2 linked regions of the Homo sapiens genome follow. The protein of the gene in region 1 binds, or shares a complex with, the protein of each later gene. Each region holds a gene or a part of one and is shown on either strand. Other genes may lie near its edges. A codon is read from its position in the direction of its gene.

Region 1 (7,084 bases):
AGTGATATTGTTTCTATTTTGCCATTGAGGAAATTAAGGCAAAGTGTTGTAGTGACCCGCTATAGGCCTATAAGCTGAGGAATTGGTGCAATTCAGTTCCAAAGGCTAGCTCTCGAGGTTTCTCTTAGTGTTCCTGCCACAGTGGCACACATTCCTAAAATCTGTTACCATTGCTTTGGCATCTGAATAAATTTTTAGCAGTGCTCCTCGGCCAAAAGAAAATAGTTCAGTCTTAAGCAGTTATATTCTAACTGTTTAATAAGTATTTATAGCCTAACAGCTAATAGCCATTTAGAAAAAAAATAAATTGAAAGAAGAAATATTTTCATTTCATTCTTAAATAACTGTGGCTAGCTACCAATGAGAGGTGTGCACCTGTTGGACATTAAATGACTTGGCAGAACCACTTGCATTCCTGTTTCATATTGATTTTCATCTAGTATTTTTTTTTAATCACAGCAACTGCCAGAAACTCAGCTTCATAGAAATATTATGTCATTAAGAGGAATGTAGCATGATCTTACGTTGAATTTGTGAACTACTTCAAACTAGTTTGCCAATATCTGACATGTAAGGTTTTGCTGTTTTCCCTGAACATTCGAAATATCCTTTGGTGGCTGTATGAGTTTGGGACACCTTAGGGCACCTGAGTGCACAGTTTGCGAACTGCCAGCATGGCATTTTTTTTTTTTTTTTTAAGGGACGTGTTGTATATATCAAACCTCTTCATTACTGGAGATAAAAGAAATACAATAAATAGAAGAGAAGGCCCCTCCTCGTATCTTCATTCTAGAAGAGAGATGTTTGTAGTAGCTTCACCTGTTGTCAAGCTGCCATTTCTTTCTCCACTGTAATTTCCTAAAAGTGTGGTAGGAAAGAGAATAGTTGCTGAGAAGGGTTCTTGAGCTTAATTTCTACTTAATTATTAGATTTAATAAAGGCAAGTTTTAAAGAAGTATCTGTGGCCTGACAAAGACTTCAAGCCAAATTAGAGGCAAAGGAGCTCAAACTCATTCAGAGAAGAAATTGTGTTAGCTGAAAAAGAAGTCGGTGCTAATCTTTAAGATTTTTTAAAGTTCTCTCTAGACCAAACAAAGAAGGGAAGAAAATTTTAGCATGATTATAGTTTACACACATTTATTAATGGCATTATGTTGAAAAAAAGTATTTGGCATTATTGTATAGTGAACAGGGAGTTAGAAAGTGGGTTGTTCAATGAGAACACATGGACACAGGGAGGGGAACATCACACACCAGGGCCTGTCGGGGGTGGGGGTCTAAGGGAGGGATAGAATTAGGATAAATACCTAATGTAGATGACGAGTTGATGGGTGCAGCAAACCACCATGGCACGCGTATACCTATGTAACAAACCTGCACGTTCTGCACATGTATCCCAGAACTTAAAGTATAATAATAATAAAAAAAAGCAGGTCGTAACTAGCTATGACCTTGCACATATAATTTAGGGTATTTGTATGATAGATTCTCCCTCTGAGTAGAAGACCACTAAGCTCTCTTCCCTTCCAGTTTCTAAGCCTTCATTATTTTAGACTAGTTGCTAAGATTTAAGTAATCTTCATTTGTAGGCATATATATACATATACACATACATGATACATATACATATGCTTATATACACTATATACATGTATACATAGTGCATACAATGTATACATTAAAAATAGAAACCAAACAAGTAGAGGAGAAGAAAAATTGAATGATAGAAGTCAACTCCAAAGAAGAGAAAAAGGAAATTAAACCAGCAAAACAAAATGCATGAAATAAAATGGTAGCCCAGAATCCAAATATTGTCAGTAATTACAACAGTAAACGTTAATGGACTTAGGACTTTATTTATTTATTATTAGTTTTGGAGATGGGGTCTTGCTCTGTTGCTCAGGCTGGAGTGCAGTGGCGTGATCTCAGCTCACTGCAACGTCTGCCTCCCAGGCTCAAATGATTTTCCTCTCTCACCCTCTGAGTAGCTGGGATTACAGGCGCCCACCACCATGCACGGCCAGCTATGATGACTCTATTTAAAAGACAAAGGCTGTCTGTATTGTTTACAGGAAATATGTGTAAAATATATTAAAATATTTTTAATACAGAAAGATTGAAAGTAAATTTTTAAATTACCTTGCAAATTCTAACCAAAAGAAAGTTAGAATACTTATTAATAATAGTTATAGTTGAATAATTATTACCAGCATAAAAAAGGGTCACTGCATATTGATAAAATATTTAATCAAGGAAGTAACAAGTCTGGGAGTGGTGGCTCATGACTGTAATCCCAGCACCTTGGGAGGCCGAGACAGGTGGATCACTTGAGGTCAGGAGTTCCAGACCAGTCTGGCCAACATGGTGAAATCCCGTCTCGACTAAAAATACAAAAATTAGCCGGGTGTGGTAGCACGTGACTGTAATCCCAGCTACTCGGGAGGCTGAGGCAGGAGAATTGCTTGAACCTGGGAGGCGAAGATTACAGTGAGCCAAGATCACGCCATTGCACTCCAGCCTGTGCAACAGAGCGAGACTCCATCTCAAAAAAAAAAAAAAAAATAGCGATTTAAAATGGTATATACCAAGTGACATCATTTCAAAGTAAAAATGCACAAATTGACAAAACTACAAGGAGAAATAGACAAATTATTATTATAATGGGAGATTTAGACATGCTTTTTTCTAATTGATAGAACAATGAGATAGAAATTTGTCAAGCCTATAGAACAAGAATCAGCAATTTTCTTCTGGGTCAGATAGTAAATATTCAGGCATTACAGGCCACCTAAAGTCTTGGTTACATAGTTTTTTGTTTTGTTTTGTTTTGTTTTGTTTTTAACAACCATTGCAAAAACCATTCTTAGCTTGAAGGCAGTAGCAAAATAGGTTATAAGCCAACCCCTGCCCTAAAGAATTTCAATCAGTAGCCCAAAATCTTTTCACGAAGAAAGCTGTGGCTTCTCTGGCCAATTTTACTAAACATTTAAGAAATAATGACTGAAAGGTCACTTTTACACAAACTATTTTGCACAAGCCAAAAAAGGGAACATTCCTCAACTTATTTTTTAAGGCCAGGATAACCTTGATAACAATACTTGGCAAAATATGGGAAAGGAAAATTCGAGGAACATCTCACTCAGATGCAAAATCTCGGAAAAATAATTAGCAAAGTGGATTTGGCACTACATAAATAGGATGACACATCAGGAACAAGGTGGTTTCAACTTTACACTAAAGGAGAACACTGGTTATTTTAGAAAGTGCAGCAAACTTGATAAAATCCAATATTCCTTCCTGATAAAAACTGTTAGCAAACTGGGAAATAGAAAGGGGGAACTTCCTTAACCTGAAAAATATCTACAAGAAATTTGTAGTAAATATATTTAGTAGTGATACACTGAATGCTTTCCTTTTGAAATTAGGGACAAGTTAGTCCCGCTTCAGTAATTTACTAGAAATTATAGCACAGGAAAGCAGGAAAAAATAAACGATAGGAGGATTGAGAGGAAACAAAACTTATTTTGCACAGATATGATTATATAAATATAAAATCCATAAGAATATAAATATTTAGAATTAATAAAAGGCAAAGTTGTTGGATATAAAGTCAGTATAAAAATCAATTGTATTTACATATGAGAGGAAACAAAACTTACTTATTTTGCACAGATATGATTATACAAATATAAAATCCACAAGAATCTAGAAATAAATGTTTAGAATTAATAAAAGGTAGGCAAGGTTGTTGGATAGAAAGTCAGTATAAAAATCAATTGTATTTATATATATATAAACAGTAAAATTTAGAAAAAGATGCCATAGCATGAAAAAACATTAAGTACTTAAGAATCTAGCAAGTGCTATGCAAGACCTCTCTGACATTTAAAAAACTTTTTTGAGAGATATTAAAGTAGCCCTGATAAGTGGAGCGATAAACTATCACTGGATTAGAGGATACAGTAAACAGGTAATCGACCGCAGTTCCAATGTAATTGCAGTCAAAATCCCAAGCATTTTTTATAGTACTTGTTAAGCTGACTCTGAAACATACAGAGGAACAGAAAGAGCAAAAAAGAGACAAGATATTCTTGAACAACAACAAAAATGGGTGATGTGCCCCTCCAGGTATCAGACTGTAAAGAGTGAGACTATATCTTAGTGCTGTAGTTATCTAGACCAGTGTTACAGAATTTGAGAAACAGACCCAAGAATATATGGACTTTAACATACCACAGAAGAGGCATTGCACATCAATAGTATGAAGATAGACTTTTCAGTAAAGGTGGTTGGACAATTGGATGTCCCTATGGGAAAAAAAAATTTCCCAGATTACCATTATTCCATACACAAATCAACTCCAGATTTATTAAAAACCTAGATGTGAAACCAAAACTAAGAAGTCTTTTGAATATAATATGGCAGAGTGTCTCTGTGGCCTCAGTGTAGAACTTTTTAAAAAGGCCATAAAAAGGCTAAGGAAAGGATTCATATATTCAGCTTCACTGAAGTGAAGTAACTTTTTATCAAAAGATAACATAAGGATAATGACAAGACAAACCACAAATTGGAAAAAGATACTTGCAGACATTACACAGTATTGAATATTCACAATACATAGAGAACTGTAGCGGGGGAAAAATTGTATGAAAGATTTAAGTACTATACAGAAGGAGAAATCTAAATGGCCAACCAACAGAAATATATTCAGCATTGTTAGTAATTGGAAATACAAATTAAAATCTGAGATATAGTTACACTGTAAGATTGGCAAAAATAAAAACATGTGATGCACCAAGCCTTGTTGCTGTGGAATGGAGGCTTACTCACTTCTGTGCAAGAGTAAGTTGGTACAAGCCAGTTGGAAAAACAGTTTGGTATTAACTAATGAAGATGTGCCCTGTGACACAACAGTGAGACTCCTAGCTATAGACCTTACGTGAGACACTCAACAGAAGTATTCACAGGAGCATCGTTTGTATAGTAAAAGCCAGAAACGTATCAACAGGACCGTGAATGACTTGTGCACAAGCCCAGCCACTCTTGAAGCTGACTCTTACAATGTTAGTCGACTGAGAGAAGCAAAAGACAAAAGAATATATGATTCCATGTATATAAACTTCATAAACAGGAGAAACTGTAATAGGTGGTGAATTTGTAGAACAAATGCCTTGAGTTTATCTTTTAAGAAAACGTGTTGCTTTTGAAATACTAGCATGCAAACATAAAGTCATGTTCTTACACTGCAAAGTAATTGTCATAAATCCTAAGTAATACAAATTTCTATTACCATGTAATCAGCTACAAGGTCCTATTACTACCATTCTGAGTAGTAGTCAAAGCAAGGTAAAAACACGTTTTAAAAAAAATATGTATCTATTACTTTCTAGGGTTTCTCACATTCTAACATTTTCCTTTTTTGTTTTTCTTTTAAAGAAAGGGTGGATTTTTTGTGGATCTCTTTGTAAGAGTATCTAACCAAGTTGCAGTTAACATGTACAAGCAGTTGGGCTACAGTGTATATAGGACGGTCATAGAGTACTATTCGGCCAGCAACGGGGAGCCTGATGAGGACGCTTATGGTAAGCTCCCTTCCATGGCAGTATCCCCAAGAAGTCGAAACAGTTACATTCTTTCTACAGATTGTAGTATTTGATTATTTTAATAAATGTAGAATATTTGACTTTAAAATTTAAATTTCCCTCAACCTACCTTTATCAACCTATTAGTAGTAGTAATTAACTTACCTATTAACTAACCAATGGTTAATTTCTGTACCTTACTGTTTCACTCTGTTACATACATATTATTTTGCTAACAAGAAAACGTGTATTGTGAGCTGAATACTGGGTGAGGTCTGGTTAGCATCTGGTACACTTGGCAATTGGGAGACATTTATAAATACATTTTGCTTAGAATATGGTGAAGTGGGGGTAGGGATAAAACCTCTTATGGGAACTTTACCTATACACTTTACATTTGATATAATACATTTTTTGGGTGTTTATATTAAACTTTGCTTCTTTACAGATATGAGGAAAGCACTTTCCAGGGATACTGAGAAGAAATCCATCATACCATTACCTCATCCTGTGAGGCCTGAAGACATTGAATAACCCTGGGCAGTGGTTCTTAGGCAGATACTCTAGATGCTTTATGGACAATATTATTTTCATTGGATGATTCTGGAGCTCTATTAGGAGAAAAGTAATCATTTTAGGTCTTAAAGACTTCAAGAAAATACAGGTTATCAATTTATTTTAAATCTCATTGTTTCCAGTTAGCAATATCATACCTATTAAAGCTGTTCATTGTAACAAAATTCAATCAAAAAGGCAGCTAGGTCAGAAGGAAACATACCACTCTCATGGTTCATAGTATTCACTGTATGTATGCTAGGGAAAAGACTTGCTCCAGTCTCCTCCTCAGTTCTGTGCCTGAGAACCACTGCTGCATATATTTGTTTTTAAATTTTGTATTGAACTGTTAATTGAAGCTTTAAAAGCATATATGAAATGTATAAATCTAAGATGTATAATACATTATTGACTCTATGAATGTTTTCTGAAGTTTGTTAGTCATTTGTAAAACTAAATCAGATTGTAATCCCAGTACTTTGGGAGGCCAAGGCAGGCTGATTGCTTGAGGTCAGGAGTTTGAGACCAGCCTGGCCAAAATCTATACTAAAAAAAATACAAAAATTAGCTGGGCATCCCAGCTATGCAGAAGCTGAAGCACAAGAATTGCTTGAACCCTGGAGGTGGAGGTTGCAGTGAGCTGAGATCGTCCCACTGCACTCCAGCCCGGGCAACAGAGTAAGACCCTGCCTCAAGAAAAAAAAAAAAAAAAAAAATCAGGATTGTGAAAGGTCATCATCATTTAAGATACGTTTAATTAAATTGTGACTTCCATACGTAGTATTTTAAAAATGCACACTTGAAGCAATCACTGTCCAGCATACTTAAGAAGCTCCCTTCTTATCGTGTAGTAAATTCTTCCCAGTCACCTGCGTTCATACCATTATACTGTTTGTTTGTTAGTCCTAGATCTTTTCTCCTCTTCACAATGCTTTGCTTAAATCCTG
Region 2 (7,290 bases), on another chromosome or scaffold:
TTCTAAAGTTATAGAATGTTAAATGCACCAAGTCCTTTGGTCATTTTATTTCTACCTTAGATCTAAGCCATAACTATACTTTCCCAAAAATTAAAGTTTGAATTTTAACTTAACCATATATAATTGGAAAAGGAGGTTGGGTTCGTTAAGTGTAATTTTATCATGCTTTATTATCCTTTGGGCATTGGATACAGCAGAACATGCCAATTTCTATGGCTTCTCATGTGACAGAATATACTTACTAGGATGCAATTAAATACTCCTCAGAGTATGTAAACAATAAATGTAATCATTACATTATTTTTATATTGTTCTTTCTTATGCATAATAGTAAGACTGAAAATATAGTGTTATTTCTGAAATATGCATATTGTTTTGCTTTTGATGATTAAATAACATTGTCCAAAGTTTTAGGTTTTTTGAAATCTTATATTTTTTAACAAAATATCTAGCCTTTCCAAAACAAGACCTCAATAATTCGTTTAAGACCCAGAGTTGTTCCTCTCCACATAGATCTCTTAAAAAGGCAGAGGATTTATGACCTCAAGAGAAATCAGAGTATCCAAAGTTTGCTTTAATTCAATGTTTTAAAAATAAAATTCCTTAGATTTTATCAAAAATTGAGATTAGTTTGATTTTGAATCAGATGCCCTTTGCTCCCCACCCCAAAATGGCATTATGAGCAGACTAGGAATTGATAATAGAAAATTGAACATATGAAATATATCTTTACCTTGCTTTTTAACAAGGTATTCATGTCTATCGCCTTCATTTTTAAGTGCATCAATAAAATACATGGTAATTCTCTTAGTGAAATATACTATCTACACTATGTACACACTCCCCTGTCTGAGGTAGAGAAGTAGAGAATATTCACATTTTTGAAACGTCTATGCTATTTTTATTTAAATACGAGTTCTGGGCTTGATTTCATTTTGGAACACGGGTGTGTGCTTAAGTTGAACCTTTTTTTCCTCTTAAGTCAAAGTTCTTTTTTAGTTTCTTCTTTTATCTTTTTGGCTACTATCTCTCTCCTTCATCCTCCTGGTGTGAGTTGTTGAGTGAAGGTATTAATTCCATTATTTGAGGCTAAGTGACATTGTTCAATAATGCAGCAAAACAATGGTTCTACCCAAAATATCTTCAAGTGTAAAAGCAGTGGGCAAAAGAGAAAGTGCGCTTCTGCTGCTTTGAATGTTTAAGGCTGTGAAAGTTGATCACACAAATTGGGTCATTCTTGTTATACCCAACTAAAACAATCAAGAAGCCTGGGAGGAAAAGCATTCAAGAAACATCACATTGCTCCAAAAGTGTAATTTTCTACAAGTCCGCATGCTGAGGCTGCCTGTTGTAACCTGGGACCAATTTTTTCTGTAACTGCTGAAAAAACTTGCTGCAGCTCTAGGACTAATTTTGCCCACCACTGTCACTCACCAATTGAAGCTTACTAGCTCCCCAGAACCTTTCTAGTGCCAATGAACTTTCTCAAAGAGCAGCGTGTATCATTTCTCTTTTTCAGAACACCTCCAACCTCCTCTTTGTTCTTTGGGTATACCAAAGACCAACCAGCCTTGAATTTCAATTTTTCTTCCCACATAAAAGTTTTAATTTAGAAATGTATCTCTACATTTCTAACTTTGACAAAGCATAGATACCAGATAATTGATGAAACCTTGCTATTTTAACGATCACCATGGATTACTTCCCAGTGTCTTCAGATAACCCTCAACATTTGCCAACATTTGATGGACTTCAAAATGAGCATATCTTTTTTAAAAAAAATTATTCACACTGACAGCAAGTACATTGGTATACTCTATATTAAATTATACCACAGGGTTTACAAACAATTGGTGATGTCGGGCAGTGGTTTCCAAGGAACATACTTAACAAGACACTCACAAGGCCCTACAAACCTGCATTTTTAACAAGGGCCCTAGATGATTCTAGAAGAGTGTGGTTTGGAAAGCAATTTTTGCCTTTATTATGTGTCATTTTAAATATATTTAAAATTAAAGTTATAAGTCATAGAATTGAATAAAGATAATTTCCTTACAGAAAGTATTACTAGGTATCTAAATACAATATGGTTCAAAACAGGAAATTTAAAAAGATTATGTAAATTCTGTAGTTGTATTCCTAAAGACAGTAGCTGAAATTTTTTCCTACTTCTCCTTGTATCACTTCCCTTTTCCTTCACTTTCACTTCCCTGGAATTGTACTTCCCAATAAGCTATTAGCAGTGAAGGAAGCTTCGTCTCATGATCTGTTTTATAGAGCACTTCAGCTGGGACGAGTACGAAATGATAATCAGTTATATCAGCTATTCAACCCTACAGGTTTATTTAAAAAGAACTTGAATAAGCTTTTTAGGGAGAAAGAGGTCAGTCTCAGCCATTTCTGTTTCCTAATATAGCTTTTAAGTCTTTCCTTATTAGCAATGAGGGTCATTCCATTGTAATTTTTTGATAACCATTTTTCTTTCTGTGTGTCAAATGCAGATATAAGATACTGAACTGAGTCTATTTCACTGTTCGTAAAACAATCCCATTTGAAAAAAAAAAGTCTACAGCTATTCCAGGGATAGGGCCTAGTAGAGAGAGAATAAAAGGTATTTTCTTACTATGTCTCTATATCCTACCCTGTAGGTTCTCTTATTAAGCATACAGGCATATACCAAAATCCAGACGTTTTTCTCATTTATTTTATTGCCCTAACATATTCTGGGTTAATATAATATCATAATGAAAATTTGAGAAAAAATTGATTTTTTCAAAAGTGTTTAACATTTGTTATATTGGTAGTTTTTTTTCTTGTTTGTGGTAAAAATAAATAGAAGGTGCACTTCACACCTTCAAGTATGATTATATTTTGAAAACAAGTCATGAATACTCATAAAATGCAAATTTTAATGTTCTTTTTTTGTTACAGCCAAACTATATTAGGCACAGTTGTAAATTGGAGTTGAAATTTAATATTTCTTTATAGATAACAATGTTTTTAGAAATAGGTTTATGAAACAGTAAATATACAGGTATAGGGATAAAATTGTGTCTGATGGTCATATGAAGTGTTTGTTGTTATATTCTCCTTGGAATAGCTGCCAAATATTTTAGTATGCTTAAAATCTACGAATGTGATAGAGTCAACAAATTTAGATCACATATTCAGAAAAACATAGTTAGAGAACTAACTATTGAAATGAGCATACAGCAGTCTTCCTTTATCTACAGGGATACATTCTGAAACCCCCACTAGGACACCTGAAATTGCGGATAGTAGCAAACCCTACATATACTGTTTTTTCCAATGCTTATGTACCTATGAAAAAGTTTAATTTATAAACTAGGCACAGTAAGAGATTAACAACAATAACTAATAACAAAAGAGAACAATTATAATAATATACTGTAATAAAAGTTATGTGGGTATGGTCTCGCTTTCTCTTTCCCTCTCTCTCTGTCTCTAAATATCTTAGTATTTTGGGGTTGCAATTGGTGGTGGGCAACTGAAACCATGGAAAACAAAACCACGGATAAAAGGAGACTACTGTATATACTTTTTAAAACTGATGAAATATTAAACTCATGTTTCTTCTATATCCCACCCATTTCCCCCACCCAAACCTAGATAGATATCTTATTTGATCTGTAAACATTTAATTAATTTGTAAAAGTTAAGAACTTTTTGAAGTAAAACTGCAATATATCATCACACCTAAAGAAATAAACAATAATTCTTAAATATCAAGTCAGTGTTCAAATTTCCCCAACTACCTCATATGTGTTTTCCATTTGCTTATGTAGGGTTCCCAATGAGAATGAAATAAAGTTCTTAGGTTGCAATTGGCTAATGCTCTCTCACTTCTACTTTAAGCGGCAGGTTCCCACTAACTTCTTTTTAGTTGCAATTTACTTATTGAAATTAGACGTATTCTTTGTCTTGTGTAGTTTCTCACAGTGCAAAATTTGCTGATTGTAGCCACTGTTGTAAGCAATGAACATGTTTTTCACCACCTTATATTTGCTGTAAGTTGTCAGTGATAGTTAAATGTTAATCAAATTCAAATTCGGATCACGTAGGGCTTTTCTTTTTTTGTTTTCTTTTTCTATTTATATATTTATTTATTTATTTTGAGACGGAGTCTCACTCCGTCACCAGGCTGGAGTGCAATGGTGTGATCTGGGCTCACTGCAATCTCCACCTCCCGGGTTCAAGTGATTCCCCTGGCTCAGTCTCCCGAGTAGCTGGGACTATAGGAGAACCACCACGCCCGGCTAACTTTTTGTATTTTAGTAGAGATGGGGTTTCACCATGTTGGCCAGGATGCTATAGATCTCCTGACCTCACCGATCATGTAGGACTTCAATTGTCGAACAAACGAACCTTTAATAGCAGTTACACCATTAGGATGACCTGATCCAACATCGAGGTCGTAAACCCTATTGTCGATTTGGACTCTAGAATAGGATTGTGCTGTCATCCCTAGTGTAGCTTGTTCCCACTTGATGAAGTTATTGGATCAGTGAACAATAGCCCACTTAAACTAGTACAGTCTTAGTTTAAGATGGTGATGTGTATGTACTTCCATCAGAGGGCACATAATACAGTAAATCCTCACTTAACTTCATCAATAGTTTCTGGAAACTGTGACTTGAAGCAAAACAACATATAACAAAACCAGTTTTACCATTGGCTAATTGATATAAGCAAGAATTAAGTCCTATGGCAAATTTCTGGACACAAAAACACCATCAAACTCCTAAATAAAGATAAATCACTTCTGACATTAAACATTGAAATTAATGTGAGCTATATATACGTTTAAGAAAGATTAATACAAACAAGTCAAATAACTTACCTAATTATTTCGGTGGAGGCCGCAGGTGGTTGGAGCCTATCCTGGCAGCTCAGGGAGCAATATGGGAACCCACCCCGGACAGGACGCTGTTCCATTACTGCAGGGTGCTCTTGTACACACCCACTCACCCAGGCTGGAACCATGCAGACACACACACTCACCTAACCTACACATCTGTGTACATCCTTCAAAGTTCAGCCAAATAACATATAAACAAATCCAGTAATATCCATCAGTCTTAGTTCCGTCATAACAACTCCTTTTTGATCATCAAACAACAAACAGGGTAGGTCTGCCATATTTACTTGTCTGGTCCATATCAAAATTTTCTAACAAATTATATTAGAAAATCAAATCTCTGTCAGTTTCAAAATCATGGAAAAAAATTTGCCTTATTTCCCTTATACTTGGATATCCTAACAGTAATCTAAATATTAATGAGAAAGTTAATGATGTCGTTTCCTTCTCCCTGTTGTAAAGAAGGTTTTGCTGTCCCGTTTGATCACTAAGACTAATTGACACTCAGAAAAAGCATAGGAAACTTCTCAGCATCACAAAAGCTCTGTCATCTAGAGAAGCTAGGACTTGAGCTCAAGTCCTGTGACATGGAAGGCCTTGTGCCTAGCCATCCTGCAGCAGAGGCGTATCTACCAAGAAGTGAAACACTACGAAAACAGTATGTTTACTCCACATTTTAAAGTGAGGTAGTTTGGGGTGGTTCATATTTTATTTAATTTATATATTATTTGGATTTTTTTTAGTTTATAAAAAGGGCATTGGCAAGGGCAGAATGATCTGTAAGCTTCTCTGCCCACCTACCATAAGCATGATCTTTAGTGTGACCTTTTCTTACTGTTAGCCATTTTCTTATACTTCTGCGTCCCTGTCAGTCACTTCCATGTGAAGACATGGGGAAGCTTTTTTACATCAGACATGTTGTTGAAAATCAGCCGCGTTGGCTGAGGGATTATTTGATCTCTTTCTCCAAGTCCCTTTAGGCTCACATTGCCTCTCTGTTCTTTGAATTTTCACTTACCTTTATCTTCTTATAATTACTTTGCTGAAATAAATGCAAAGCAACAAAAGGTATTTAGTGAAGAATACCAACAAAGCCATGACCATTTCAGGCTGAGTTTTGTAGTATTCTTTGTCTAGGAAGAGATACCTAGAAAAATTTTCTGACCATGTATTTGATTATTTTCCTTCAATATGTATAGTCTCAGTCTTCAAATTTCAGAAAAGAATTTGTTTCTTCATTGTCATTTAAAATTAATGTGTTAAATATGTATGCTTTTACATTATAAGTGGTTATAAAAGTTAAACACTTAGAAAAAAAGTCAAAATAACATACATACTATCCAACAAAATAACTTTCATATTTTATTGTGTTTTCTTCCAAACTTTTTACCTTTGCGTCTGAATTCTGTGTAGGTTGTATCTATAATATAGACAACACTTTATAGCCTGCTAAATATTATACCATAAATAGGTAGTTGTTACATAATTCTCAGGTAATAGTAATACAGGTCTTTATCATAATCTACTGAGTAGTTGAATGATAATTTTTTTTAAGACAAGGTCTCCCTCTGTCACCCAGGCTAGAATGCAGTGGCATGCACATGGCTCACTGTAGCCTCTACCTCCCAGGCTCAAGTGATCCTCCTGCCTCAGCCTCCCAAGTGGCTGGGACTGTAGGCATGTGCCACCATGCCCAGCTATTTATTTGTATTTTTAGTAGAGATGGGGTTTCATTGTAACAGCCCAGGCTGGTCTTGAACTCCTGGACTCAAATGATCCACCTGCCTCAGCCTCCCAAAGTGCTGAAATCACAGGAGTGAACCACTGCACCCAGCAATAATTTTTTAACTCTTCATTATTCATTGAACATTTAGTTAACAATTCTAAAAATTTTGTTTCCTGCTGTCATTGATCTTGTGAAAAATATCTTTGGACTATAGCTGTGGATTATTTCCTAAATAGTAAATTACTTGAGCAAAAAGTTTACATACTTTGAGGGTTGATAACCCATGTTGCCGCAATGTTTCCCCGGAGGCATTGTGGAGTTTAGAATGCCAGTAGTAATATTAAGGTGTGCCATTTTCAAGATCCGTGGCCAACATCCCTATATGTAAGATTTTTCCAAAACATGGTTCTGATTTTTAAAAGTGAAAAATGCTACTTCATCATGTTCTTTTTGTGCTTCTTACTTTAAATATTAGAATGAAGAAGGAGCCCCACAGGAAGGAATTCTGGAAGATATGCCTGTGGATCCTGACAATGAGGCTTATGAAATGCCTTCTGAGGTAGGAGTCCAAGCTGAATCTTTCTAACAAGACAGTACCAAAAACCTGTCATTGTCACATTTCTCTTTCATTAGTGCTTAGTGAGAATCATTTGCTCTCTACATGCTCATTACGTGGACAACTTGC

The links.
Region 2: the proteins of NAA20 (region 1) and SNCA are in contact, whole or in part, in a cryo-EM structure (PDB 7STX), measured with the Homo sapiens proteins. Residues at the interface, in NP_057184.1 of Homo sapiens: Leu23, Thr24, Glu25, Tyr27, His73, Val74, Thr75, Ala76, Leu77, Ser78, Leu110 (codon at 5,459), Phe111 (codon at 5,462), Tyr137 (codon at 5,540), Tyr138 (codon at 5,543), Ser139 (codon at 5,546), Ala140 (codon at 5,549); in NP_000336.1 of Homo sapiens: Met1, Asp2, Val3, Phe4.

Annotation. Positions count from the first base shown.
Region 1 is NC_000020.11:20,027,072-20,034,155, forward strand, and holds the end of NAA20 (N-alpha-acetyltransferase 20), read left to right. Parts: intron 1-5,436; coding exon 5,437-5,582; intron 5,583-6,030; coding exon 6,031-6,116; 3' UTR 6,117-6,584; downstream 6,585-7,084. UniProt on the Homo sapiens protein: Catalytic subunit of the NatB complex which catalyzes acetylation of the N-terminal methionine residues of peptides beginning with Met-Asp, Met-Glu, Met-Asn and Met-Gln. Proteins with cell cycle functions are overrepresented in the pool of NatB substrates.
Region 2 is NC_000004.12:89,729,068-89,736,357, reverse strand, and holds part of SNCA (alpha-synuclein), read left to right. Parts: intron 1-7,080; coding exon 7,081-7,164; intron 7,165-7,290. UniProt on the Homo sapiens protein: Neuronal protein that plays several roles in synaptic activity such as regulation of synaptic vesicle trafficking and subsequent neurotransmitter release.